2 separate regions of the Homo sapiens genome follow, and region 1 is linked to region 2. Evidence: fine-mapped expression QTL. A gene starts in region 2. The other region holds a variant in brackets. All regions are shown on one strand. Distances are from middle to middle. Region 1 holds the start of POU6F1 (POU class 6 homeobox 1). Region 2 holds the start of DAZAP2 (DAZ associated protein 2).

Evidence for each region.
Region 1: its variant is fine-mapped to the expression of DAZAP2 in microglia (Young 2019, PIP 0.95).

The regions. Positions count from the first base shown.
Region 1 is chr12:51,209,001-51,225,098 of GRCh38, forward strand. POU6F1 (POU class 6 homeobox 1) reads right to left here and starts at 9,062. Exons shown (of 11, transcript NM_001330422.2): 1 at 8,642-9,062. RefSeq lists silencers at 8,236-8,495, 8,726-8,885, 9,086-9,235, 11,343-11,522 and an enhancer at 9,386-9,445. The variant C/CA (reference allele first, on the strand shown) is at 6,555.
Region 2 is chr12:51,228,981-51,242,333 of GRCh38, forward strand. It overlaps DAZAP2 (DAZ associated protein 2), which reads left to right and starts at 9,846. Exons shown (of 4, transcript NM_014764.4): 1 at 9,846-9,940; 2 at 11,363-11,481; 3 at 11,891-12,136; 4 at 13,350-13,353. The coding sequence starts at 9,928. RefSeq lists enhancers at 8,896-9,533, 9,625-9,919, 9,843-10,092, 10,809-11,445 and a silencer at 9,643-9,752.

The DNA.
Region 1 (16,098 bases), 19 kb before region 2:
TGGGTCCTCACCAGACAACACCACCTTGATCTTGGACTTCCCACCTTCAGTACTATGAGAAATAAATTTCTGTTGTTTAAAAGCTACCCAGTTTATGGTATTTTGTTATAGCAGCCCAAACAGACTACGATAAATTCACATCCCATACAATTAACCATTTTAGCCACTTTAAAGTGCTCCGTACAGTGGAATCTGGTGGGTTCACACTTGTGCCACCATCACCACTGTCTAGTCCCAGAACATTTTCATCAACCCAAAAGGAAACTCCATATCCACTAACAGTCATTCACCTTCCACTGCCACCGCCCAAGCCCTGGCAACTACTGATGTGCTTTCTCTATGGGGTTCCCTATTCTGGATATTTCATGTAAATGGAATGATAGAATATGTCGCTTTGTGTGTCTAGCTTCTTTTACTTGGCATGTTTCCAAGGTTCATCCACATTGTAGCATGTGTCAGAACTTCATTCCTTTTCATGGCTGAATAGTATTCTATTGTATGGATACACTATATTTTGTTTATCCATTCATTAGTTGGTGGACATTTGGGTTGTTCTACCTTTTGGCTATTGCAAATAGTGTATTATGACTATTGGGTATAATTTTTTTTGAACACCTGCTTCCAATTCTTTGGGTATATACCTAGGAATGGAATTGCTGGATCACCCCTGGGGTTTTAGCATCTTCATTGCTTGGCAGAATGTTCCCTGATCAACCAGGTAAGGAGAACCATGAGGTTCTTTCCCTCCTCTTCCTTCCTTAACCCCTCTAGAGTGGGATTCAAGAGAGGGCAAGCAATTCCAGGTACCTAACAATTTGAAAAAAGAGGAAATGAGCCTTCCCCTTTCAGGTAGGATGAGGGGGTGCAGGAGGGGCAGAGGAATTTGCTGAAAGAACTGGTGAGCATCTAACTACCTCAATGGGGCTCTAGCCTCCTTCTTAGGTGATGTCTCCCCTCAGATTTTTTTTTTGTTTTGAGATAGGGTCTTGCTCTGTTGCCCAGGCTGTAATGCAGTGGCATGACCATGGCTCATTGCAGCCTCAAACTCCCAGCCTCAAGTGATCCTTCCACCTTAACCACCAGAGTAGCTGGGACTACCCATGGCCAGCTAATTTTTTTTATTTTTTATTTTTGGTAGATATGAGGTCTCACTATGTTGCCAGGGCTAGTCTTAAACTCCTGTCTCCCCAGATTTTGTACATGGTAGTCTTCCATGAGTTTTTCAGAGAACTTGGCAATTTACCATCACTTCTGGGTAGGAACTGGGATAAGCTATGAAAGTCGTTACACATAGAAGCCATTTGCAAAGAAAATAAGAGGAAGAGACAAAATTGAAATGAAAGCTGCACAAGGTGAATCTGGGTGCATTATAGCTTGATACATACATTTCTTGGGGAGAAGAATTTTCCAATTCCAAAGGTCATTAGGCGTAAGGCAGCAGTAGCCAATCTTTGTAGGACAACAAGGCATCTGCTTGAGAGGAGCGTTAAGTCTGCTCATAGTCTTGTTGTGGCGTCTGGCTCCTTGCTGCCAACTATGGCCACTCACAGGGAGTGGCTGAGCAGGGGCAAGCGTCCACTTTGTGACTGTGTTATTAGGAGGATTCAGGTAGTGATAAGGCTTGGGTGATTCTGATATCCCTTTCACCCTTAAAATTTGACGAGCTTTGAGGACCTGGGTCCTCAGTGTCTGGTCCTTTAAGTCAAGGGCAAAGTCAGTCCTGAGACATAGCCTCTAGCCACACCTAAGCCCACTCCAACCCACCCACCAGATTTCATTCAGCCCACCAGAAATCCAGGCAGAGCAGAGTCCAAGACCTCCTTTGTCTCAGATCTCAGACTCCCTTGTCTGTCTCTGTCTTACCTTTAGATGGCTCCTATTACACATGTATGTGATATCAACGTCTCTCTGACAAGTAGACACTCAGCATTTTGACTCTGAGCTGTACCCTGTGTGTTCCCCTTGCTTGGTATCTGTGCAGACTTTCCTCTGGACCTGCTGCCATCTCCTTGTCAGGAACTTTCCAAATTTTTTTTGAGCCTCAGGCTGTGGCTTGGTTCCAGTGACTAGACAGCCCTCTTCAGTTTGCTTTTTGACCATTTCCCCAATGACTGCATAAATAGCACATCTGGATGGCCTCCTTTAAGCCCATGATGCTGTGCAGTGCCCACAGCCTGAAGGCCAGGGAGGAGAGACAATCAGCTGTCTGTTTCAAGAGAAGGAGCTCCTGTCCCCATCCCAGCAGTAGAATCCCAATACATACACAGATCACAGCAGAGCTGCTCTGGTTAAAGCTGGGGAGAGAGCCAGAGCCCACCAAGGGCCCTCTCCTTTGCCTTCTTTCTCCAGTGAGTTGACTTTGAAAAACGCCTGGATCAGGGCTGGCAAGGCACTCTGGTTGGCTAGCAAATGGCTCACTTATCCCTTGCTTTCCTTGCTAACATCTAAAAACGCAGGCAGGGCTGGGCACAGTAGCTCACACCTACAATCTCAATGCTTTGGGAGGCTGAAGGGGGAGGATTGCTTGAGCTCAGGAGTTTGATATCTTCCTGGGCAATGCAGGGAGACTCTGTCTCTACAAAAAATTGAAAAAATAAAATAAACTAGCCAGGTGTAGTGGTACACGCCTATGGTTCCAGCCACTTGGGAAGCTGAGGTAGGAGGATTGATTGAGCCCCAGAGTTCAAGGCTGCAGTGAGTCGTGATCACGCCACTACACTCCAGCCTGCACTCCTTGACAGAGCAAGACCTTGTCCCTAATAAATAAATAAATATACAAACAAAAACCCAAGCAGCCTCAGGGGTAGAAGGAACAGCAAGTGCTAAGGCATTTGCCTACCACCTGAGAATCCAAAGAGGTCCAGGGCCATGCAGGATTTTCAGCGGGGGAGAATGAGCTAGAGGACCTAGTTCTGCCTGTCATTCTCCTCTGGAACTGCTCTGGGCTTAGTGCAACATTCCAAGATACCCAGGAGGAGAACTGGGATATCCCAAACAAATCAGAACTCCCTAGAATAGTCTGAGATCCTATTAGAAGAAATCCTGAAATGCCTTGCCTTTCGTTTTTTTTTTTGTTTTTTTTGTTTTGTTTGTTTGTTTGTTTGTTTGTTTGAGACGGAGTCTGGCTCTGTCACCCAGGCTGGAGTCCAGTGGCACAATCTCGGCTCACCGCAACCTCCGCCTCCCGGGTTCAGGTGATTCTCCTGCCTCAGCCTCCTGAGTAGCTGGGACTACAGGTGCGCGCCACCATGCCCAGCTAATTTTTGTATTTTTAGTAGAGACGGGGTTTCACCATGTTGGCCAGGCTGGTCTCGAACTCCTGACCTCGTGATCTGCCTGTCTCAGCTTCCCAAAGTGCTGGGATTACAGGCATGAGCCACTGCGCCCAGCCAAACCTTTGTTTTTTCAACGCATGTTTCAGTGGCTACTATGTGCTAGGCACTGGGAATTCAATGGGGAAAACACATTTCCCACCTTTGTCAAGAAATCTATAGTCCAGGCCGGGCGTGGTGGTTCTTGCCTGTAATCCCGGCACTTTGGGAGGCTGAGGCGAGTAGATCACCTGAGGACGGGAGTTCGAGACCAGTCTGATCAACATGGAGAAACCCCGTCTCTACTAAAAATACAAAATTAGCCTGGGGTGGTGGCACATGCCTGTAATCCCAGCTACTCGGGAGGCTGAGGCAGGAGAATCGCTTGAACAACAGGGAGGCAGAGGTGAGCCAAGATCGCACCATTGCACTCCAGCCTGGGCAACAAGAGTGAAACTCCGTCTCAAAAAAAAAAAAAAAAAAAAAAAAAGAAAGCTATAGTCCAATATGGGAGTCAAGGAAATAAGAAGGTAACTACAATACAGTATGCTTAAGTTTCATGGTGGGTGAACAGAAAGCAGTAAAGAATCTACAAGAGGGACACCTAACACCTAATGACCTAATGCAGTTGTTTTTTTTTTTCGAGGCGGAGTCTCGCTCTGTCACCCAGGTTGGAGTGCAGCGGCGGGATCTCGGCTTACTGCAACCTCCGCCTCCCAGGTTCAAGCAATTCTTCTGCCTCGGCCTCCTGAGTAGCTGGGACTACAGGTGCGCATCACCGCACCAGGCTGATTTTTGTATTTTTAGTAGAGACGGGGTTTCACCATGTTGCCCAGGTTAGTCAGGAACTCCTGACCTCAGATGATTCACCCGCCTTGGCCTCCCAAAGTGCTGGGATTACAGGCGTGAGCCACCGCGCCCGGCCTCTAATGCAGTTTTATGTGGTGCTTGTTCCCAGGGAGGCCTGTATTTCAGACATGAAATTTTATGTAAAAGAATCTTGTCCTATGTAGGAAAATGGAACTTGTATGGGATTCAGACTTTTAAACTCAGATCCATTTCTGGTTTTATTATCATTTTTTTTCAGAGACAGGGTCTTTCCATGTTGCCTAAGCTGGTTTCCAACTCCTGGGCTCAAATTATCTTCCCACCTCAGCCTCCCAAAGTGCTGGTATTACTGGCATGAGCCACCATACCTGGCCCATTTCTATGGTTTATTTTATTTTATTTTATTTTTTTGAGACGAGGACTTGCTCTTGTTGCCCAGGCTGGAGTGCAGTGGCATGATCTCGGCTAACTGCAACCTCTGCCTCCCAGGTTCAAACGATTCTCCTGCCTCAACCTCCCGAGTAGCTGGGACTACAGGCGCCCACCACCTTGCTCAGCTAATTTTTGTATTTTTAGTAGAGACGGGGTTTCCCCATATTGGCCAGGCTGGTCTCGAACTCCTGACTTTGTGATCTGCCCACCTCGGCCTCCCAAAGTTCTGGGATTACAGGCGTGAGCCACCACATCCGGCCTAATTTCGTTATCTTTAAAATGGTGACTAGGCCAGGCGCAGTGGCTCACACCTGTAATTCCAGCACTTTGGGAGGCCAAGGCAGGAGGATCACCTGAGGTCAGGAGTTCAAGACCAGCCTGGCCAACATGGGGAAACCCCATCTCTACTAAAAATACAAAACTTAGCTGGGTGTGGTGGCGGGTGCCTGTAATCTCAGTTACTTGGGTAGCTAAGGCAGGAGAATCGCTTGAACCGGGAGGCGGAGGTTGCAGTGAGCCGAGATCATGCCATTGCACTCCTGTCTGGGAGACACAGTGAGACTCTATGTCAAAAAAATAAATAAATAAAAATAAATAAATAAATAAATAAATAAAATGGTGATTAAATAGGCAAGCCCTATGGGATTGTTATGATGGTGATATGAGATCATGTAAATGAAATGCTTAGCATGACTCTTACCACAATCATCTTCATTTTTATCTATATGTACATAGAGGTAGAGAGAGGTCAGGTGACTTGACCAAGGGCACAGGAGAGTCAGTGGCAGATTCAAACTTCAAGGCTCTGTCGACCTGCCCCGGACCCCATCCTCCTGACACCACACAGAACCTCCTCTCAGGAAATGGGGGTAAGGCTGATGGGGACTGCTCTGGTCCCCAAGGCTCAGGACACACTGGAAAACAGAGGATCTCAATTCTGCTCCACACCGACGCCTGTCCCCACACCCTGAACCATGAGCAGAGATAACAGTCTTGCCAAGCTGTTGGTAGGCTAACAGCTAGGCACACACAGGCCAGAGAAAGGAAAAAGAATGATGAGGTGACCAAATAAATAGGAGAGTAGAGTCAAGGGTAGTAGCTCACACCTGTAATCCCAGCACTTTGGGAGGCTGAGGCGGGTGGATCACTTGAGGTCAGGAGTTGGAGGGCAGCCTGGCCAACATGGTGCAACCCTATCTCTACCAAAACATAACAAACCCAAACAAACAAATAAAAAATTAGCTGGGTGTGGTGGCGCAGGCCTGTAGTCCCAGCTACTTGGGAGGCTGAGGCCAGAGAATCGCTTGAGCCCAAGAAGGTGAAGCTGCAGTGAGCCAAGATTGTGCCACTGCACCCCATCCTGGGTGACAGCAGAGTGAGAACCTGTCTCAAAAAAGAAAAAAAAAAGAAATGTGAAAAATGAAAAGTAGGTATGTTCCTAGTAGACTGTAAGCTCCAGGAAGGCAGGGATCATGTCTGCTTATCATCATATCCCTGGTGCCTAAGATAATATCTGGTATATAACTAGGTTCATGAATATGGGCTGAAAACAATTGAAGATACGAGGTCACGTCATAGCCACATCACTTAGCCTCTTATTATTTCCTACCTTTTCCCTCAAAACACACACCCTACTTCAAATGTTTTGCCTCCATTTCCAGTACTGGGGCTACTTAAAAATGATTTCAAAGACGTGGTACAGGCCGGGTGTGGTGGTTCACGTCTGTAATCCTAGCACTTTGGGAGGCCGAGGCGGGCGGATTACTTGAGGTCAGAAGTTCAAGACCAGCTTGGCCAACATGGTGAAACCCCGTCTCTACTGAAAATACAAAAATTAGCCAGGCATGGTGGTGTGCGCCTATAGTTCCAGCTAGTTGGGAGGCCGAGGTGGGAGAATTGCTTGAACCCGGGAGGTGGAGGTTGCAGTGAGACCAAGATCGCGCCACTGCACTCCAGACTGAGCGACAGAGTGAAACCCTGTCT[C/CA]AAAAAAAAAAAAAAAAAAAAAAGAGAGATTTCCAAGGTGTAGTATTGGGTTCTGGAGAACCCAGACCACACTGGCCCCTTCCTAAAGCGCCCGTCTAATTTCTCATTCCAAGCCTTCCTCCTGTGGCCAGTTTCTCCTGCATCCCACTCTCTCTTCTGCCTCATGAACCCTCATTTTGACATGAGGGGTCAAAGGCAGGTTTAAAGGCAGAAGACCCAGCTTGAGTACTGCTTCTACTAGAGGTAATCCCTATAAGCCTCCGTTTCCTTATCCAAAATGGAACCAAATTATAGTAACCACCTCATGGGTTATTGTGAGGATTAAATTGATAATATTTATGGAAGGCACTTAAAACAGGGCCTAGCATGAAGCAAACACTATATATATGTTTGTTATTATCATTGCTATTATTTTGAACTGAAGTAAAGCATGCATATAAAAATGTTTTAAATTATAAAGCATTTTAAAAATGTAAAAGATGGCCAGGCACGGTGGCTCACGCCTGTAATCCCAGCACTTTGGGAGGCCAAGACGGTTGGATTGCCTGAGCTAAGGAGTTCGAGACCAGCCTGGGCAACACGGTGAAACCCCATCTCTACTAAGATACAAAAAAATCAGCTAGACTCTGTCTCAAAAAAAAGAAAATGTAAAAGATTACTCTGATAATTTTATGGTGAGTAAATCTTGGGGACAAGAATATGAGCTTATCCCAAGTTCCTTCAAAATGCAGAAAAACCTTACAGGAGCAAATTTTTTCTGAGTCACTTTTCTTAACTGCCAGCTAGTACTTCCAGGAACAAAACAGAATAAATGGCTACATACACACACACTGACACACAATCACTCTATGGTATTACCTTGTTAGTTTTAATGTTTAGCATCTACTTGTCCACCCCCAGAATAAAAACTCCATGATAGAAGTTTTGTCTGAATTGTTCAGAGCATGGCACTGAGTGGGTATTTTTGTTGAACTAATGAAGAAATGAAGTTCTACAGCAGATAAGCGGAGTACCAGGTCACAGAAGTATCACTTTGAGGACCAGGACTTGAATGAAAATGGAATATATGGAATTATTCCTCAGAAGGCCTCTGCCAGTCAATGGTGGCTGCCTTAGATTGCTAAATAAGGGGCATGGGACACATGTATATGAACAATTGAAGACCAGCCCTCTACTTTTGGAACAAGGAATTTGGGAAGGGCAGATGAGGTTAAAAATCTCTGCAAAGAGCCTCTTTTCTTTGGCCCAGGAATGCTTCCCGAACTCTTCTGATTTCCCCCTGCCCAGCCGCAGAGGCTATTCTGTGAAGGTTTTAGGCTTCCAGTCGGGCTGAGTGGGGTATTCTGCCGCGAAAGTGGAGGTTAGAGGGTATGCTGGGAGCTCCCTTGGCCTTGCCAGGTGAGCCTGCCCAGGGAGCCTGCATCGGGCCCATTATTATGACTATTTATTAATAATAATATCGATATTAAATATTTATGAAGTGCTCATGCTCTGCTAGAAGGTGGCCCTCCCATCACTGACCCACCCTTCCAGCAACGCCTGGGTCCCTACCCCCGGGTCCCACCGGTCGTCCCGGAGTTTGTTCATTCGGGAGAACCGTGACAGGTCACCCTGGCCGCCCCAGCTGGCCCTAACCGCCGGGAACCCAGGCGTCCGTGTTCTCCAGAGAGGCAAGGATCCGCTTCTGGTCGCCACTGGTTCTGTGTACAGAGCGTCCCCTGTGGTCCGCACCCCACAAGGGCTCCAGGGGCAGAAACGGGGAGGGGCCAGGTCGGGGTTCCCCACCGGGTCCACCTGGCGGCCGCCCCCTCCGCTCCAGGTCCAGAGCGGCCCGCGGGCGGGCGAGGGCGCGGCCCCCGGGTGTCTAGCCCCAGCTGGGCAACCGCGCGCTGTCCCGCTCCCGCAGCTCCCCGCCGCCCCGGCCCAGCATCCCGCCGCCCCGGCCCCGCGGCTTTTTTTCTCTTTATCATAAATATATAAATTATGCTAATTACGGGCATTGCATATTAACCAAACCCGAAACCTCCCCTGCCCGGCCCCCTCCCCCTCCGTGCAAACCCCTCCCCGCCCCGGACCCCGCTACTTACCGGAGCCCGAGCCCGAGCCGCCTTCGCCGCGGGTGTCTGGCGGCCACCGATTAGAGATTCATCTCACAGCCCGGGCCAGGGGGCCGGGGCCGGGGCCGGGGCCACGGCGGCCGCCGCCCGCAGACAAAGAAGCCAGTGCGGCTTGGCTGGGCTCGGCTCGGCCCGGGAGCTGGTCGGGACCCGCCGCCGCCCCCAGGCCCCCAGCCTGGGCTGGGCAGAGCCGAAGGGGGCTCCGCAGGCTAAGCCGGGCGGAGAGGGGACGGCCGGGAAGCGGGAAGGGGAAGCCGGGTGGGGGGGCGGTCAGGTATATATTTTTCTTCGTTCCCCCTTCCACGACCCCCCCCTTTTCCCTCCCCCCCTTTTTTCCCTCCTTCTGCTACTTGGATTTTTTTAGCTGCTGCGTCATGAGCATAATTTATGCAAAGAGCTTTGCCGCATGCTGCACCGCCCGCGCCAGCCGCCGGGGGCGGCGGGCTGGGAGGGCGGTCAGGGAAGGGAGGGGAGCACGGGAGCCAGGAGCGAGGGGTGGGGGTGGGGAGGGGACCCTCTGGCCCTGGCCGAGCGGGAGGTCCCGGAGGCTCTCTCCCGGGACAGGGATGGACGGTCAGTGGGTCTGGTTACTCAGCCCCTCCGAGGTGCCGCGGAGGTGGTTTCATTTCGGAAGGTGCCAGAGTAGGAGCTGGAGTCCGGACCCTCCATGCCACATGGCCTTCAGCTGAGGGTTGGGGCGGTGACTCCCGGCCACCGCCTTTCCTCTAGGTAGTCAACTGTCCTCAATGTTGAAAGTCAAGTTTATGTCTATCCCTCCCTCCCTAGAAAGGCGGGGGAACTCAGACATCGCTCAGCCAACGTGGAGAACCTCTGAACAGCTGTGCCCCAGCGCCAAAGCAGCGAAGGGTCCCAGGTCTCTCACCCGGTGGCGGCCGTGGGCTGTGTTGTCTAAAAGCAGATTTCCGGCCTTCTTGTCCAAGTAGACAAGGAAATGTGAACAGAAAGACAAAGTTCAGTGGAATGGTGAAAAACCTCTAGCAGCTTCTTAAGGTAGAGAGGGGACCAGAAAAGGGGTGGATGTGGGTGGCTGAGGGAAAGCAGATTGGAGAAGTGGTGGACAACTGAAAGAGGAAAAAGTTGGAAGACCAAAGTGGAAGCGTGGGAATGGAGAGAAGAACTGGGAAGGAAGGAGGCTCTGTAAATCCAGTGAATGTGGATCCCAATACTGAGGCCACCTGCTGTCATCCTAGGCTGTTCCCCCTCCCACCCTCTCCCGATATTTGGTGGTCTGAGGATAGCTAGAGGTAGATGGGTTAGAGGCAGTGTGAGAATGCAGTTGGAGGCCTCAGTCCTCCCCGGGACTGCTCCGTAAGGCCTCGTGGTGGAAGGGCATTGAATGGCCCGGCCTCGTCGTTAACCTGGCCAGTGGACTAGGCTGTTATCAGCTTGCTGTTTCCATCTGGAAGTGAGCAGGTACTGCTGGCGGCGGATTTATGAGTAACCAATGTATTAGGAGTCAGAATACTTAGGTTTTAGTCCCAACTCTTCCACTAGCCGTCCAGGCAAGTAATTTAACTTCTTCATTACTTATAAAACAAGGATAATATTTATAATGACATTTATAATGACTACTTCATAGGGTTAAGTTTGTGAGCCTGTATGTGAAAAAACTGAAAGCTGCAAGCTCTATACAACTGTAAGGTGTCATTCCTTGTACAATAGTTTGAACTCGTTTTAATGGCCCTGTGAAACTCTACTGCGTGGCTTGATATTACAGTTCTTGGGGTTTTTGTTTGGCCGGTAGTCCCTGTAGTTTCTCTCCCTGGACTGTGAATTCTTTGAGAGCACTGGTTGTGACTTACTCATGTTTGTATTTCCCACTACTCTTTATGTGAAGGAGGGGCTCAGTATTGCTGCTGAACTTTGTCACATGAAGGTTGAAACTTTTCATTTATGTCACTTGGTTTGGTGCTACACATAGATCAAAGGCTTTGGATAGCATGGATATCAGCGACAGTTTGAAGAAAGAAATATGGATGTGATCAGAGGAGTTCAGGGAGACATACATAAAAATGTTAATCACGGTTTTCTTTATGTTGTATACACTTCTGCATTGCTTAAATATTTGATGAGCATATATTACTTTTTGTTTCTGTGTTTATTGGGGCATAACATGTACACAGTATGTGTATACCTTGATAAATTTTTACATGTATATACATATGTACGTGTATGTATGTGTGTATACATATGTACGTGTATGTATGTGTGTATACATATGTACGTGTATGTATGTGTGTGTATACATATGTACGTGTATGTGTGTGTATACATATGTACGTGTATGTGTGTATACATATGTACGTGTATATGTGTGTATACATATGTACGTGTATATGTGTGTATACATATGTACGTGTATATGTGTGTGTACATATGTACGTGTATGTGTGTGTATACATATGTACGTGTGTGTGTATACATATATACACGTGTATAGATACGTGTATACATATATACATGTCTATATATACATGTATATACTCACACACATATATATATCCATGTAATCCCCACCCAAAACAAGATATAGAGCCTTTCCAAGACCTGAGGATTCCCTTATGTACCTTCACCGGCCATAAATTCCCAAAGTAACCATTATTCTGATTTCTGTCACCATAGATTGATTACTTGAGCTGATTCTTGAACTTCTCATAAATGGAATCAGACAATATGCAATCTTTTGTGTTTGGCTTCTGTCACTCAACAAAATTTTTTTTTTTGAGACGGAGTCTTGCTCTGTCGCCCAGGCTGGAGTGCAGTGGTGTGATCTCGGCTCACTGCAACCTCCGCCTCTCGGGTTCAAGTGGTTCTCCTGCCTCAGCCTCCCAAGTAGCTGGGACTGCAGGTGCGTGCCATCACGCCCAGCTAATTTTTTTTTTCTTTTTTTTTTCGAGATGGAGTCTCGCTCTGTCGCCCAGGCTGGAGTGCAATGGTGTGATCTCAGCTCACTGCAACCTCCACCTCCTAGGTTCGAGTGATTCTCCTGCCTCAGCCTCCTGAGTAGCTGGGATTACAAGCACACGCCACCATGCCCGGCTAATTTTTGTATTTTTAGTAGAGATGGGGTTTCACCATGTTGGTCAGGCTGGTCTTGAACTCCTGACCTCATGATCCGCCCACCTCAGCCTCCTAAAGTGCTGGGATTACAGGCATGAGCCACCACGCTCCCAGCTAATTTTTTATACTTTTGGTAGACACAGGGTTTCACCATGTTGGCCAGGCTGGTCTCGAACTCCTGACCTCAAGTCATCCGCCCTCCTCGGCCTCCCAAAGTGCTGGGATTACAGGTGTCGGCCACCACACCCGGCCTCAATATATGTTTTTGAGATTCATCCATGTTGTTGAATGTAGAAGTATTTTTTATTGCTGTGTAGTATTCCATTGCATAATTATACTACAATTTATCCATTCCATTATTGATGGGCATTTGCTTGTTGTTTGGGCCTCTTAGGAATAAAACTGCTATGAGCATTCTTGTACAAGTATTTTGGTGAACATATGCACTTATTTCTTCCAGGTAAATACTGAGGAGTAGAATAGCTATTCTATTTTATTTAGCTTTTGTCCATACTGCTAAATAGTTTTCTATAGTGTTTGAACCAATTTATATCTTTATCAGCAATGCATGAGAGAGTTCTAATTGTTTTACATCCTCACCAGTATGTGGTATTGGTAGTCTTCTTGCAATGAAAGTTTATTACTTTTTGGCTGGGCGCTGTGGCTCATGCCTATAATCCCAGCACTTTGGGAGGCTGAGGCGGGTGGATCGCCTGAGGTCAGGAGTTCGAGAGCAGCCTGGCCAACATGGTGAAACCCCGTCTCTACTAAAAATATAAAAACTAGCCGGGCGTGGTGGTGGGCTCCTGTAATCCCAGCTACTCGGGAGGCTGAGGCAGGAGAATTGCTTGAACCCAGGAGACGGAGGTTACAGTGAGCCGACACGGTGCCACTGCACTCCAGCCTCAGTGACAGAGTGAGACTCCGTCTCAAAAACAAAAAACAAAGTATATTACTTAAAAAATTTTTTTTTCTTTTTTTGCCTGGGCATGCCAAAGACCGCACCTGGCTTTTGTTGTTGTTGTTGTTGAGACAGAGTCTCACTCTTTAGCCCAGGATGGAGTGCAGTGGCACGATCTCCACTCACTGCAACCTCTGCCTCCTGGGTTCAAGCGATTCTCCTGCCTCAGCCTCCCAAGTAGCTGGGATTGCAGGCATGTGCCACCGTGCCCAGCTAATTTTTGTATTTTTAGTAGAGACAGGGTTTCACCATGTTGGCCAGGCTGATGTCAAACTTCTGACATCAGGTGATCCGCCTGCCTCCACCTCCCAAATTGCTAGGATTACAGGTGTGAGCCGCCACGCCTGGCCTAATATTTTATTATTTTTATTTTAAAATTTTACTTTTTTTTGAGACAGAGTCTTGCTCTGTCACCCAGGCTGGAGTGCAGTGATGAGACCTTGGCTCACTGCAACCTCCACTTCCCGGGTTCAAGCTATTCTCCTGTCTCAGCCTCTCGAGTAGCTAGGATTACGGGCATGCACCACGATGCCCGGCTAATTTTTGTATTTTTAGTAGAGATGAGTCTTCACCATGTTGGCCAGGCTGGTTTTGAACTCCTGACCTCAGGTGATCCACCTGCTTCGGCCTCCCAAAGTGCTGGGATTACAGGCGTGAGCCACTGCACCCGACCTATAGTATTTTGTTATAACAGCCCAAACGGACTAAGACCCATCGATACTGATCCACTTTCAGGTTCTTAAACTTCGAGCTCTTTCCTGCCTTCATTGTGTCTGCCTATGCTGTTTCTTCTGCCTCCTCCTTAGCCCATCTTTCAGGCCTTGCCTTATATATGGCTTCCTTCCTCAGAGACATTTTCCCTGCACTTCAGTGTTATTTTGTCTCGTATCACCTTCCCGTTTTCTTAATCACCATGTGTGCTGATGTATTTGTATGTTTATTTTCTATTTAATATGTTTACCGAGTAGGCAGTAAATTCCAAGGCAACAGTCCATTTTGTTTTTGACTGGACATTTGGCACCAAGCCCAGTTATCTGGCACACAGTAGATAATAATTACTTATTGAATAAATGAAGGCTCGGAAAGTTGGGGAAATGTGAGTGAAGGAGAAAACGAAAACGTGCTGGGCTGAGAATCCTGTTGAAGAGTTTTATTTGGCCGGACACGGTGGCTCACGGGTGTAATCCCAGCACTTTGGGAGGCCGAGTCAGGTGGATCCCGAGGTCAGGAGTTTGAGACCAGCACGGCCAACATAGTGAAACCCCGTCTTTACTTTTTTGTTTGTTTGTTGAGACGGAGTCTCGCTCTGTCACCCAGGCTGGAGTGCAGTGGCGTGATCTCGGCTCACTGCAAGCTCTGCCTTCCAGATTCATGCCATTCTCCTGCCTCAGCCTCCCGGGCAGCTGGGACTACAGGTGCCCACCACCACGCCTGGCTAATTTTTTTGTATTTTTCTTTTTTTTTTTTTTTTTTTTTTTAGCAGAGATGGGGTTTCACTGTGTTAGCCAGGATGGTCTTGATCTCCTGACCTCGTGATCCTCCCACCTTGGCCTCCCAAAGTGCTGGGATTACAGGCATGAGCCACCGCGCCCAGCCCCGTCTTTACTAAAAATACAAAAATTAGCCTGGTGTGGTGGCATGTGCCTGTAGTCCTAGCTACTCGGGAGGCTGAGGCAAGAGAATCGCTTGAACCTGGAGTTGCAGTGAGCTGAGACCGTGCCATTGCACTCCAGCCTGTGTGACAGAGTGAGACTCCGTCTCAAAAAAAAAAAATTATATACTGGATGGCTTATAAACAACATAAATTTATTTCTCACAGTTCTAGAAGCTGGAAAGTTCAATATCAAGATGCTGGCTGATTTGATTTCTTCTGAGGGCCTGCTTCCTAGTTCATAGACAGCCATCTTCACATGGCAGAAGCAGGCTAGGAAGCTCTCTGGGGTTCCTTTTATAAGGGCTCTGATCCCATTCATGAAAGCTCTACCCTCATGACCTAATCACCTCCCAAAGGGCCCACATAATACCATCACATTGGGGGCCAGAATTTCAATATATGAATTTTGAGGGGGACACAAACATTTGGTCTCTTGTAGGCTAGGACACCGCAAGAGGTGGGGGAGAATTGTACAAAATGAGGTTGGAAAGGGAGGCAGACACCAAATCAGGTAGGCTTGGCCATATATACCTCTAATCTTTCTAATTGGGACCCTTCTAGCTTTGCAAACTCAAGATTTACCTCCTCCAAGAAGGCTTCCTGTATAATACATACCACATTGTTCTAATTATTATTATTTTATTTTGTTTGAGATAGGGTCTCACTCCTTCACCCAGTCTGGATGTAGTAGTGTGATCTTGTTTCACTGCAGCCTCAACCTTCTGGGCTCAAGTGATCCTCCTGCCTCAGCCTCCCAAGTAGCTGGGACTACAGGTATGTGCCACCATGCCTGGCTAATTTTTGTATTTTTCGTAGAGATGAGGTTTTGCTATATTTTGCCCAGGCTGGTCTTGAACTCCTGGGCTCAACTGATCTGCCAGCCTCAGCCTGCCTAAGTGCTGGGATTGCAGGCTTGAGGCACTGTGCCCAGCCAATATTACTTTTTTTTCTTTTTTGAGATGGAGTCTCACTTTGTCACCCACGCTGGAGTGCAGTGGTGCGATCTCAGCTCACTGCAACCTCCACCTCCTGGATTGAAGGGATTCTCATGCCTCAGCCTCCCGAATAGCTACGATTACAGGCACGTGCCACCACACCTGGCTAACTTTTGTATTTTTAGTAGAGATGGTGTTTCACCATGTTGGCCAGGCTGGTCTCGAACTCCTGACCTCAAGTGACCAGCCCACCTTGGCCTCCCAAAGTGCTGGGATTACAGGCTTGAGCCACTGTGCCCAGCCAATATTACTTTTTAAATTACATTATTGTTCCAATAACTTCACTTTGTAATTTATAGGCCATTCCCTCCCTCCCGTTCTTTCCCTTGCCTTTTCTTTCTTTCCTTTCTCTCTCTCTCTCTTTCTTTTCCAGACAGGGTCTTGCATTGTTGCCCAGGCTGGAGTGCAGGGGTGTGATCATGGCTTACTGCAGCCTCAACCTCCTGGGCTCAAGTGATCCTCCCACCTCAACCTCGAGTAGGTGATACCACAGACACATGCCACCATGCCCTGTTAATTTTTTAATTTTTTGGTAGAGATAGGGTCTCCCTATGTTGCCCAGGCTGGACTTGAATGCCAGAACTCAAGTGATCCTCCCGCTTCAGCCTCCCAAAGTTCTGGGGTTACAGGTGTGAGCTACCACACCTAGTCCTCACTCTGTTTCTTGAGAATATGTATTATTTACCCACTGGACGAATGACAGGGCCATGTATTTTCTCTTTCACCTGATCTCCTC
Region 2 (13,353 bases):
CATTCCTTCCTGGGAAGCCCCAGGCCCTGCCTCTCTCTGGTCCCTCAGCTGTCCCCAGAAACACATTTCCCCAAATCTGACCCATTCAGTCCATATTCAGTCTAGATTCTGGATTTAAGGCTAGAGGGGTGAGAGTGAGTCAGTGACTGTGTATGTGTGTATGTGCGTGGGGCCCGGTGCAACAGGGAGAAGGTGGCACAGCAGCCTTGTGTGAATGAGCTTTGGCATATAGTCCCTCCAAGTAGGACTGTCTCGGGGAGGCTGGTATTCCCTCCAGTCTGAGTAAGACACAGATGAAGCTCTGCTCTTCTGAGTACCCTGGATAACCTTTGGTCTCGAACTACTGGCCTTAAGCAATCCTCCTGCCCCGGCCTCCTAAAATGTTGACATTACAGAGCCACTGTGCTTGGCCTTTTTTTTTTTTTACTTTTTTTAATTTTTAATTTTTTTAGAGTCAGGGTCTCACTTGTCACCCAGGCTGGAGTGCAGTCATGCGATTATAGCTCACTGCAGCCTTGCACTCCTGAGTTCATGCAATCCTTACCTCAGCCACCCTAGTAGCTGGGACTACAGGCCTGTGCCACCATGCTTGGCTAACTGTTTTACATTTATTATGCAGAGCAGTGTTAGTGACTCTCCTACAAGGCTTGCCAGGAATAAGAAATGAGGGTACTTTTTTTTTTTTTTTTTTGAGATGTATTCTCACTCTGTTGCACAGTCTGGAGTGCACTGGCATGGCATGATCTCTGCTCACTGCAACCTCCGCCTCCCAGGTTCAAGTGATTCTCATGCCTCAGCCTCCCAAATAGCTGGGATTACAGGTGCATGGCACCACACCCGGCTACTTTTTGTATTTTTGGTAGAGGCGGGGTTTCACCATGTTGGCCAGGCTGGTCTCAAACTCCTGACCTCAAGTGATCTGCCCGCCTCAGCCTCCCAAAGTGCTGGGATTACAGGCGTGAGCCACTGTGCCTGGGCCTAAGCCATATATCTTATAATAGCTGTTCCCTTAGTTACACAAAGACTAGATAAAGCTTTGAAAAAGTTGCTTCAAAGAGGCCGGGTACAGTGGCTCACATCTGTAATCCCAGCACTTTGGGAGGCCAAGGTGGGCGGATCACTTGAGGCCAGGAGTTAAAGACCAGTCTGGCCAACATGGTGAACCCCATCTCTGCTAAAAATACAAAAATTAGCCGGGTGTGGTGGGACGCACCTGTAATCCCAGCTACTCGGGAGGCTGAGGCAGGAGAATCGCTTGAACCCAGGAGGTGGAGGTTGCAGTGAGCCAAGATCGCACCACTGCACTCCAGCCTGGGTGACAGAGTGAGACTCCATCTCAAAAAAAAAAAAAAAAAAAAAGTTGCTTCTAAGAGAGATTGGATTCTTTCACAAAGCTCCAACTCCTTTGGGCTAGGAAATAGGTTGTTTTGTTCTTCTGGTTACATAAGTGAAGAGCACAACACATAGTAGGTGTTGAATAAAGGTACATAAACAACTATAGTCAACCTAATTAACCGGGACTAGGATAAGCTTGTCCAACCCTCGGCTTGCAGACCACATGTGGCCCAGGATGGCTTTGAATGCGGCCCAACACAAACTCGTAAACTTAAAACATTATGAGATTTTTTGGTGATTTTTTTGGTTTTGTTTTTAGCTCATCAACTACCATTAGTGTTAGTGTATTTTATGTGTGGCCCAAGACAATTCTTACAGTGTGGCTCAGGGAAGCCAAAAGATTGGACACCCCTGGACTAGGGGGCCCAGCAGGAAGAGTCACTATCATTCTGTGAGTCCTCACATCACAGCTTACCCATCTCCAATGTGGCACTTACCAAGTGCTGCTGTAATTTTCCTTTTAGCATCCATCTTGCCCAAGGCACATTAAGATTCATTAGCTGTCGACTGGGCACAGTGGCTCACACCTGTAATCGCAGCACTTTGGGAGGCTGAGGCAGGCTAATCCCTTAGCCCAGGAGTTTGAGGCCAGCCTAAGCAACACGGCGACACCCCATCTCTACAAAAAATACAAAAATTAGCTGGGCATAGTGGCACGCGCCTGTAATCCCAGCTACTCAGGAGGCTAAGGCAGGAGGATGGCCTGAGCTTCTGAGAGCAAGGCTGCAATGAACCATGATCGTGTCACTGCATTCTAGCCTGGGTGACAGAGTGAGACCCTGTCTCAAAAAAAAAAAATGAAAACAAAAAAATTAAAGCTCGGGCACAGTGGCTCACACCTGTAATCCCAAAAATGTGGGAGACCAAGGTGGGCTGATCACTTGAGGTCAGGAGTTGAGACCAGCCTGACCAACATGGTGAAACCCTGTCTCTACTAAAATTACAAAAATTAACCAGTGTCGTGGTGGGACCTGTAGTCCCAGCTACTTGGGAGGCTAAGGCAGGAGAATCACTTGAACCTGGGAGGTGGAGGTTGCAGCGGGCAGAGATCATGTCACTGCACTCCAGCATGGGTGACAAAGCAAGACTCCCTCTCAAAAAACAAACAAAAAAATTCATTAGCCATCATGCTTGGGTTTTCCTCATCCCAACATTATTATTTTAAAAAAACAGCCTTATTGAGGTATTGTTAGTTGACATAAATTGCTCATGTTTAAAATATACACCCGGCCGGCCGGGCGCAGTGGCTCACGCCAGTAATCCCAGCACTCTGGGAGACTGAGGTGGGCAGATCACGAGATCAGGAGATCGAGACCATCCTGGCTAACACCGTGAAACCCCGTCTCTAATAAAAAATACAAAAAATTAGCCGGGCGTGGTGGCGGGCGCCTGTAGTTCCAGCTACTCGGGAGGCGGAGGCGGGAGAATGGCACGAACCCAGGAGGTGGAGGTTGCAGTAAGCTGAGATCGCACCACTGCACTCTAGCCTGGGCGACAGAGCGAGACTCCATCTCAAATAAATAAATGAACAAAATAAAATAAAATATACACCCAGCTGGGCGCGGTGGCTCACATCTGTAATCCCAGCACTTTGGGAGGCTGAGGCAGGCAGATCACCTGAGGTCAGGAGTTCCAGAGCAGCCTGGTCAACATGGTGAAGCCCCACCTCTACTAAAAATACAAAAATTAGCCAGGCATGGTGTCGGGCACCTGTAATCCCAGCTACTCAGGAGGCTGAGGCAGGCAGAAGAATCGCTTGAATCCGGGAGGTGGAGGTTGCATTGAGCCGAGATTGCGCCACTGTACTCCAGCCTGGGCAACAAAGCGAGACTCTATCTCAAAAAAAAAAAAAAAGGCACACCCATGAAACCATCACCACAATCAAGGCAATGAGTATATATTCATCAGTCCCAGAACTTTCCTACATTCCATTTACAACCTCCTTCCTTCCCCTTCTGCTTCCCTTCACAGCAACCATTGATCTGCTTTTTATCACTATAGTTTGTATTCCTAGAATTGTATATAAATGGAATCCAACGGGCACAGTGACACATGCCTGTAGTTCCAGCTACTTGAGAGGCTGAGGTGGGAGGATTCCTTCAGCCCAGTTCAAGGCTGCAATGAACTATGACCACGCCTATGCACTCCAGCCTGGGCAATATAACAAGACCCTATATCTAAAAAAAAAAAAAAAATTCTATAGTATGTATTCTTATTTTAAAAATCTGCTTCCTTTACTGAGCATAGATTATCCATGTTGTTTTGTGGATCCATACTTTATTCCTTTCTACTGTATGGCATTAAATTTGTTTATCCATTTACCTGTTGGTAGACACTTTCATTGCTTCTGATTTTTGGATATGACAAATAAAGCTGTTATAAATATCCATGTATAAGTCCTTGTGTACCCATGTGTTTTCTTTTCTCTTGGGTAAATACCTAGGAGTGGAATGGCTAGATCATGTGGTGTATGGATGTTTAACTTCTAAAGACCCTGCCAAACTGTTTTCCAAAGTGGTTGCACCATTTTGTTCTTTCTTATTATGACCAGCAGTTTGCCCTGACAGAGGTTGCACCATTTAAGATTTTAACCAGAGTGTGTGAGAATTCCACTTCCTCCACATCCTCTCCAACACTTGATGTGGTCAGTCTTCTTTTACTTATTTTTATTTTTTAAAATTTAAACAGAGATGGGGTCTCACCATGTTGCCCAGGCTAGTCTTGAACTCCTGAGCTCAAGTGATCCTCCCAAAGTGCTGGGATTACAGGTGTGAGCCACTGCACCCTGTCCAGTCTTAATATTAGCCATTGTAATAGGGAAGCCAACATTGTTTTAATTTTTTGACTAGGTAAGCATTCACATGGTTCAATGTTTTTGTTTGTTTGTTTTGGAGCATCATCCAGGCTGTAGTGCAGTGGCTTGATCTCGGCTCATTGCAACCTCCATCTTCCAGATTCAAGCGATTCTTCTGCCTCAGGCTCCCAAGTAGCTGGGATTACAGGCGTGTGCCACCACACCTGGCTAATTTTTGTATTTTTAGTAGAGACGAGGTTTCGCCATTTTGGCTAGGCTGGTCTCGAACTCCTGACCTCAGGTGATCTGCCTGCCTTGGCCTCCCAAAGTGCTGGGATTACAGGCGTGAGCCACTGCGCCCAGCCTCATTTTTTTTTTTTTTGAGACAGGATCTTGCTATGTCATTCAGGCGGGAGCCCAGTGGTGCCATTATCTTCACTGCAGCCTCGAACTCTTGGACTCAAGTGATCCTCCCACCTCAGCCTTCCAAGTAGTTGGGACTATAGGTATGTGCCACCACACCAGGCTAATTGATTTACTTTTGTGTGTGTGGAGATGGGGTGTCATTATGTTGCCCAGGCTGGTCTCGAACTCCTGGCCTCAAGTGATCCTCCTGCCTTGGCCTCTCAAAGTGCTCGGATTATAGGTTCAAATATTTTTAAACGTCTAAAAAGTATATAGTAAAAAGTCACTTCCACCTTTGTCTCACATCCTCCACTCCCTCTCCCCCTTATGTAACCACTTTTATAGGTATTTTGTGTATCCTTCCAGAATTTCTTTACTCAAATTCTGATGAATATTCTTGGTTTCCCTGCTCTTTGACATAAAAAGTATCATATTGGCCAGGTGCGGTGGCTCACGCCTGTAATCCCAGCACTTTGGGAGGGCGAGGCGGGTGGATCTCTCGAGGCCAGGAGTTCGAGACCAGCCTGGCCAACATGGCAAAACCCCGCCTGTACTGGAAATACAAAAACTAGCCAGGCATGGTGGTGCACACCTGTAATCCCAGCTACTTGGGAGGCTCAGGCACAAGAATTACTTGAACCTGGGAGGCAGAGGTTGCAGTGAACCGAGATCACGCCACTGCATTCCAGCCTGCGTGACAAGAGTGCAACTCTGTCTCAAAATAAAATAAAAAATAAAATAAATAAAATGTATCACACTAAGTATATGGTTTTGAATCTTTCCCTTTTTTATTTAAAGAACACCTTGGAGTACTTTCTCATTCTCTGTTGCAGCCACATAGTATTTTATTGTATGGATGTATCAAGATTTATTTTTTCTGTTTCCTATTGATAGAAATATGGGTTATTTCTAATCTTTTGCTGTTACAGAAAAGCTGCAATGAATAGCCTTATACATACGTTTCTCGTGAGTGCAAATATATCTGTAGAATCACTCCCATTAGTGGGAATGGTATGTTTGCAAGTTTGATGGATATTGCCAAATTAACCTTATAGGATTTGTACCAATTTTCACCCCCATCACCAACAAATTAGAATGCCTGCTTATCCACAGCCCTGCAAATAATGTTAGCAAATGTTTGGATTTTCGCCAATCTGATAATGATATCGGTGGGGTTTAATCTGCCTTCTGATTACGACCCAGGCTGAACATCATTTCATGTGTTAGGGAGTCATTTGTTTTTCCTTTTCTGTGAACTGTCTGTCTGTAAATGTCATTTGCCATTTTTTTCTAATGGTTGATCATATTCTTACTGATGTCTAAGAGTTCTTTACATGCAGGAAGATTAGCTCTTTGTGATGTAAATTACAAATATATTTTTCCAATTTGTCATTTGACTATATGGAGTTTTGACTTTGTAGAAATTTTGTCCTGACATTAGTCCTGGAACTAGTCCAGTTGTTTCTGCTTCCTGGATATTTCTGGAATCCCCCCATTTCTCTCTACTGTACTGCCTCTTCCCTAGGCCAGTCTGCCATCATCACACCTAAATGACTAAATTTGATTCTAAATGGTATCTCAGACATACGTCCACTCTTGCCCTTTCTTTAACCTATTCTATATTCTTTAGCAACCAGAGGGATTTTTCCTTTTCTTTTCTTTATTTTTTTGAGATAGCCTCTATCACCGAGGCTGGCAGAGTACAGTGGTGTGACCACGACTCACTGCAGCCTCGACCTCCCGGGCTCAAGCAGTCCTCCTATCTCAACCCCTCGAGTAGCTGGGATCACAGGTGCGTGCCTCTATGCCTGGATACTTTTTTAGAAATTTCTTGCCGAGATGGGGTTTCACCACGTTGCACAGGCTGGTCTTGAACTCTTGGGCTCAAAGAATCCTCCTGCCTTGGACTCCCAAATTGTTGGGAATGCAGGCATGAGCCACTGTGCCTGGCCCAGAAGCATTTTTCTAAAAGAAAAACACAAGCCAGGAGCAGTGGATCACGCCTGTAATCCCAAGTTTGGGAGGCCGAGGCAGGAGGATTGCTTGAGGCCAGGAGTTCTAGACTACTCTAGGCAACAAAGTGAGACTCTGTCTCTATAAAAAATTTAAAATTAGCCAGGCATGGTGGCAAGCACCCACTGTCCCAGCTACTCGGGAGGCTGAGGTGAGAGGATGAACTGAGACCAGGAGTTCAACGTTGCCGTGAGCTGTGACTGCACCACTGCACTCCAGCTTGGGTGACAGAGCAAGACCCTGTCCCAATCAATCAATCAATCAAACAAAAACAAGATCATATCACTTTCCTGCTTAACATTCTTCAGTGGCTAACTAGTGCCCTTAACATAGAATCCAGTATCTTCATGTGGGATCTTACATGGGCTCTAAGGCGTCCCTGCAAGGTCTGGCTCACAGTTCTTCAGCGTCAATTTTTTTTTTTTTTTTTTTGAGACAGAATCTTGCTCTGTCACCCAGGCTGGAGTGCAATGGCACGATCGCGGCTCACTGCAACCTCCGCCTCCCAGGTTCATGCAATTCTCCTGCCTCAGCCTCCCAAGTAGCTGGGATTACAGGCACGCACCACCATGCCCAGCTAATTTTTGTGTTTTTAGTAGAGACGAGGTTTCCCCATGTTGGCCAGGCTGGTCTCGAACTCCTGACCTCAAGTCATTTGCCCGCCTTGGCCTCCCAAAGTGCTGGGATTACAGGCATGAGCCACCGCACCCGGATCTTCAGGGTCATCTTTTATCAGTCCCCTTACCAGTATGCTCTGGCTACACTGAACTCTTTCATGCCCTCCCCCTCTATAAGCCTTCTCACCTCTAGGCCTTTGCATAAGCAGTTCCCTCTTCCAGGAACCCTCTTCACTTGCTTAACCTGCTCTCACCCTTCAGATTTCATCTCAGACATCACTTGCATCAGGAAACCTTCCCTGACTACATCAGAATAGAGTAGGTGCCTCACCTATGTGTTCTCCTCACACTCCATGCTGTCTTTATGTCAGCACTAATCATATTATGTGTTCACTTTTCTGTCTCTCCCATTAGGTAGACCATAAATTCCATGAGAGTATGGACTATGCCTGTCTCTTCATTATTATTTCCCTAGTGCCTGTCACAGGGCCTGGCACATAATAGGTGCTCAAAAAATATTTGTTAAATTAATGTAAGAAAGAATGTTTGATAAATGACCAAATAAACATCTTCATCTCATTGGGGAATCTACGAGAATGAAGAAAATGCCAAAGTTTGATCCTGTTCAAGAAAGTAGCTAATTACTACTACTTTTTTTTGTAGAGATGAAGTCTCACTATGCTGCCTAGGCTGGTTCTGAACTCCTGGCTCAAGCGATCCTCCTGCCTAGGCTGCCCAAAGTGTTGGGATTACAGGTGTGAGCTGTTGCACCCAGCCACCATTTACTTCTTAATTCCACCTGCCAGAGAAAGCACTGGCCTGCAACTCTTTCATTTTTGTTAGTAATCTCATTTGGCTCTGCCCTGGTTTTCCCAATGCCCAGGTCCCACTGTGACAAGCAAAATACCCAACAACCTGTAAAGTAGGCCTGACCAATCTGAGGGCAGTTTACATGAGCAGGAGGTAGGCCCAGGAGAGTTCCTGGGTCCTAAGAGTTAACCCTTTAATCATTGGACAATGGAGGTGGCAAGATCGCTTGAGGCTGGAAATTCAAGACCAGCCTGGCCAACACAGGGAGACCCCATCTCTGTATTAAAAAATGAATAGCACGTGCCTGTAATCCCAGCTAGTCGGGAGGCTGAGGCAGGAGAATCGCTTAGAACCCTGGAGGCGGAGGTTGCAGTGAGCTGAGATTGCGCCACTGCACTCCAGCCTGGCGACAGACCAAGCCTCTGTCTCAAAAATAAATAAATAAATAAATAAATAAATAAATAAATAAATAAATAAATAAAAATAAGGCTCGGCGCAGTGGCTTATGCCTGTAATCCCAGAACCTTGGGAGGCCGAGGCAGGTGGATCACCTGAGGTCAGGAGTTCGAGACCAGCCTGGCCAACATGGTGAAACCCCGTCTCTACTAAAAAATACAAAATTTGCCGGTCGTGGTGGCGGGCACCTGTAATCCCAGCTATTCGGGAGGCTGAGGCAGGAGAATTGCTTGAACCCAGGAGGCGGAGGTTGCAGTGAACCGAGATCATGCCACTGCACTCCAGCCTGGGCGACAGAGCAAGACTCCATCTCAAAAAAAAAAAAAAAAAAAAAAAGAAAAGAAAAAATTAAAACTTTTTTTAGAAAGAAAGAAAACCAGCCTGGCCAACATAGTGAAACCCCGTCTCTACTAAAAATACAAAAATTAGCCAGGAATGGTGGCGCACGCCTGTAGGCCCAGCTACTCAGGAAGCTGAGGCAGGAGAATTGCCTGAACCCGGGAGGTGGAGGCTGTGGTGAGATCGCCCCACTGCACTCTAGCCTGGGCAAGCGAGCAAGACTCCGTCTCAAAAAAAAAAGAAAAAGAAAAGAAAACACTTAATCGCTGCCCTAAAGGATGCCATCTTTGCCCTTAAGGATAATTAGGTTAGAAAGAGAAGCCATACATAGAGAAAAATAGAGGTACCATACAGGTCACCTGCAACAGGTGCTAAAAAAAGGAAAGGGCCACAAACACTCCATGGGTAGTGCAGTTATGTCAGTTTCAGTGCCAGGTGTTGCGTACAGCACGGAAAACATAACCCCTTCCTGTACGTGAGAAAGGCAACGACTGTCCTGGGGAAGACAGGGCAGCGAAGATTCCAGTGCAGGTCTCATTCAGGAAAGGATACATGTGAGCTGGAGTGGCAAAATAAATTTTAACAGAGCTGAAGCTTAAGTTGGGCTTGGTGGGGAGGGACGCATGATAAACTAAGGTGTGGGGAGCCGATTTCAGGCAGTGCGACAAATTTGCAGAAATCTAAGCCCCTCGTGGAAGGTTGCCAAGGTGAGGTGACCTTGAGTGAATGCGTGTAGGTGGAAAAAGGTTCCGGGGAATGCTTGCATCGTTCTGCATCCGAGCGTCCAACAGAGAAAAGATCCTGTTTCCAGACAATACCTGCATTTGGTTTTTCTCCAGCTGAGGGACACCGGTAGGGGGGGGGAGGACAGAAACGAGCAGGGGGTGGGGCCAAGGCGAGTGGGCGGGACCGCGCGGACCCTCCCGCGGCCGACTGGAGGCCCGGAGCAGGGGCGGAGTTTCCGGCGGCAGCGCCACTCGGGCGTCGGGTGACGCTAGGCGGACGGACCATCATGTGACACGGAAGTAGCTCCGAACAGGAAGAGGACGAAAAAAATAACCGTCCGCGACGCCGAGACAAACCGGACCCGCAACCACCATGAACAGCAAAGGCAAGGACCGAGGGTGGCAGAGGCCGTCGGGGGGAGTACTGCTGGCCCAGAGCGAGCGGATTCGGAGCCCAGGGTCACCAAACGCCAGGTTTGGGGTGGGCTGCGCCATGCTCCTTGGCCGGCTGCAGTCCAGGGCGCTGCGCCTGACGCCTTCGTCATACCCAAATTACGGCAGCTTGCTGCCTCCAGGCCCTTTCCTCCGTAAACTCTGTGGCGCAGTTTGGAGCTGCGGGCTCGGGTGGTGGGGGGGCTTGACATGATGGGCATCCGCAGGAGCAAATAGAGCGCTAGCGCAGGCATTCGCGTAGGCCAATGGAGAGCCGGCGGAGGCGGGGCGCCGCGCTCCGGAACCCCCAGCGGGGCCGAACTTAACTACTGAATTGCTGGAGTTGGTTCGTGGGCCGGGGCCTGTGAGGTCTCTTTTCCTTCCCTTCGCACCCCCTCGCCCTTCGCTGACGGGATCAGAACTTCTCCCCTTTTCTGTGGTTGTACCAGTGTGTCTGTCGGAACATGATTCCCATAACGCAGGAATAGGTTGAGGGGGTAAAAAAGGAATAGAAAAAAAAAAAAAAAAAAGGCCGAGCGAGGTTGCTCACGCCTGTAATCCCAGCAGTTTGGGAGGTCGAGGCGGGCGGATCACCTGAGGTCAAGAGTTCGAGACCAGCCTGGCCAACGTGGTGAAACCCCGTCTCTATTAAAAAATACAAAAATCAGCTGGGCGTGGTGGCGGGCGCCTGTAATCCCAGCTACTCGGGAGGCTGGGGTAGGAGAATTGCTTGAACCCAGGAGACGGAGGTTGCAGTGAGCCGAGATCGCGCCACTGCACTCCAGCCTGGGCAAAAGAGCGAGACTCCGTCTCAGAACAAACAAAAAACCAAACCTGATCCCCCGCTTTTCCAGTGAGGATATTCCTCCTCACCCCTCAGCCCTGCACCCTTTTCCCAGTCTCACGGTTCACTTCCATCATTCACACCCTTTGTTTGGAAGTCGACCTTGAATAGTAATCTGTAAGGAAAATCAGAACTGCTGTTACCCACGAAGTCTGGGCTGGTTGTAGACAGGCTGTGGAGACTACCTAGAGCAGAGGCACCCTTGATAAGCCAGAACAGCAGCAGGCCAGAACCCCAGACCTGTCCTGCATTCCGGAGGGAACTTGGGCCCAGGTAGACTTAACCCCTTACTTCGGTATGTTAGTAGGAGCAGTGAGCAGTGCCTTTCTTGTCTCGTTAGAATCCAGCACCTTCCATTTTAAGGGTGCAAAGACAATGCATATTTTCTTAGTTCCAGGAATCAGGCCCTCTGGGGCAGACTATTTGCAAATCCCCTTCTGCTTGCTCCCACTAAGTTAGCTACCCGATATGACCTGCCTCATTTTGGTAGCTCTGTGTAGTAGGCAACCTTCATTTTTTTCTTGTCTTTCAGGTCAATATCCAACACAGCCAACCTACCCTGTGCAGCCTCCTGGGAATCCAGTATACCCTCAGACCTTGCATCTTCCTCAGGCTCCACCCTATACCGATGCTCCACCTGCCTACTCAGAGGTGCTTCCAGTTTGCCAGATTTGAACTAGCTGGGAATACTCTTAGGGTGGTCCTTTAGTCCTTAGCTAAATCTGACTTCACATATTTACTCTTCACAAATGCTAACATGAATAATCTAAAACACTATATAATTTGGCAATTTTTGTCGGAGTTGAAAGTGCATTATTTGATGATTTTGTGTTATTTGGCACAGGCTAAGGTGCAGAAGATGAATTTGCGTTCTGTGAGCCCAACATTAGCTATAGCAGAAAGTGATCCAGGAGAATATTGAAGGCCAGTGGAAAGGCAACTTGTATAATCTTACAAAAAGTATAACCTGCATAAGGAGAATTAAGAATTAGCTCATTAAAGAGATCTCAAATAGGAATGTCATAAAGTAACATTTTGCCTTCTCTTCTGCCTCTTCTAGCTCTATCGTCCGAGCTTTGTGCACCCAGGGGCTGCCACAGTCCCCACCATGTCAGCCGCATTTCCTGGAGCCTCTCTGTATCTTCCCATGGCCCAGTCTGTGGCTGTTGGGCCTTTAGGTTCCACAATCCCCATGGCTTATTATCCAGTCGGTCCCATCTATCCACCTGGCTCCACAGTGCTGGTGGAAGGAGGGTATGATGCAGGTGCCAGATTTGGAGCTGGGGCTACTGCTGGCAACATTCCTGTGAGTATGACCTCATCAGAAGAAACTCAGCCCTTGTGTATTTTAACTTTCTGAAATGACTTCATATTCATTCTCTTACCATTTCTGGATGATAGTTGCCAGTGTTGGTACAACTACTGACATCCAATACTCAGGCAGAAAGTGTTTGAGGGGGCAGAACTGTGGCAAGTGAGTAGCATCTCACTGGGGGCTGAGTTAACCAGATTCTTTTGTTTTCATGTCTGTCGAGTCCTGCTTGCTGCTTTTCCAGTTCATTGTGGTACACTGAACTGGTCTAGTAATGCTCCTTATTCATTCCATAAGCATTTACCATTTACTTAATATTTGCCATCAGCATGGTGTTGCACTAGGAACCCTGATAATTAAAAAAGTAGAATGTATAATCCCTAGTAAGTAGCTTTTAGAAAGATATTAACAATTTTAGTTATCATTTTTTCCTACTTAATTCCCCAGTGCGTGGGATTTAGAGCTCAAATGACTGCTCAGTAACTACATGCTAGAGATGAAGTGAATGTGTCATTAGCGAGCCTTCAGTTTTCCAGTAGTTCATTCAAAAACTGTGTAAGGGCGAAGCACGGTGGCTCACCTGAGGTCAGGAGTTTGAGACCAGGCTGGCCAACATGGTGAAACCCCGACTCTACTATAAATACAAAAATTAGCCGGGCATGGTGGCAGGCGTCTGTAATCCCAGCTACTTGGGAGGCTAAGACAGGAGAATCACTTGAACCTGGGAGGTGGAGGTTGCAGTGAGCTGAGATCCCACCACTGCACTCCAGCCTGGGCGACAAGAGCAAGACTCTATCTCAAAAAAATTAAAAAAAAAAAAAATTAAAAATTAAAAACTATGTAGGGACCATGTGGGATTCATACATGGACTGGCACCCTGTCCCTGTTTTGGGAATGTGAGTAGGACAGTGGTTCTCTACCCTCAAAATGACTGTTGGTCTGGTCTGTTCATGTTCAGAAGGTAGCCATAGGCTTCATCTTAGAGCTGGAACCCTTTGAATGAGTGGTAGGCTCCCTTTCCTGTTTGTATCTTTGGGTTCACATAAAGTATAGACCTACTTTAGAACTCAAATTGGTGGCGGAACTAGCTCCTTAAAACGCAGCTGGTTAGCACATTGCCTCATCCTAACAGGCCTCTGCTTCCCCTATGTCCCCTTCGCTTATATTAGCTGCCCTGTGCCCATTCTATCATGTCATTTCCTTTCAGCCTC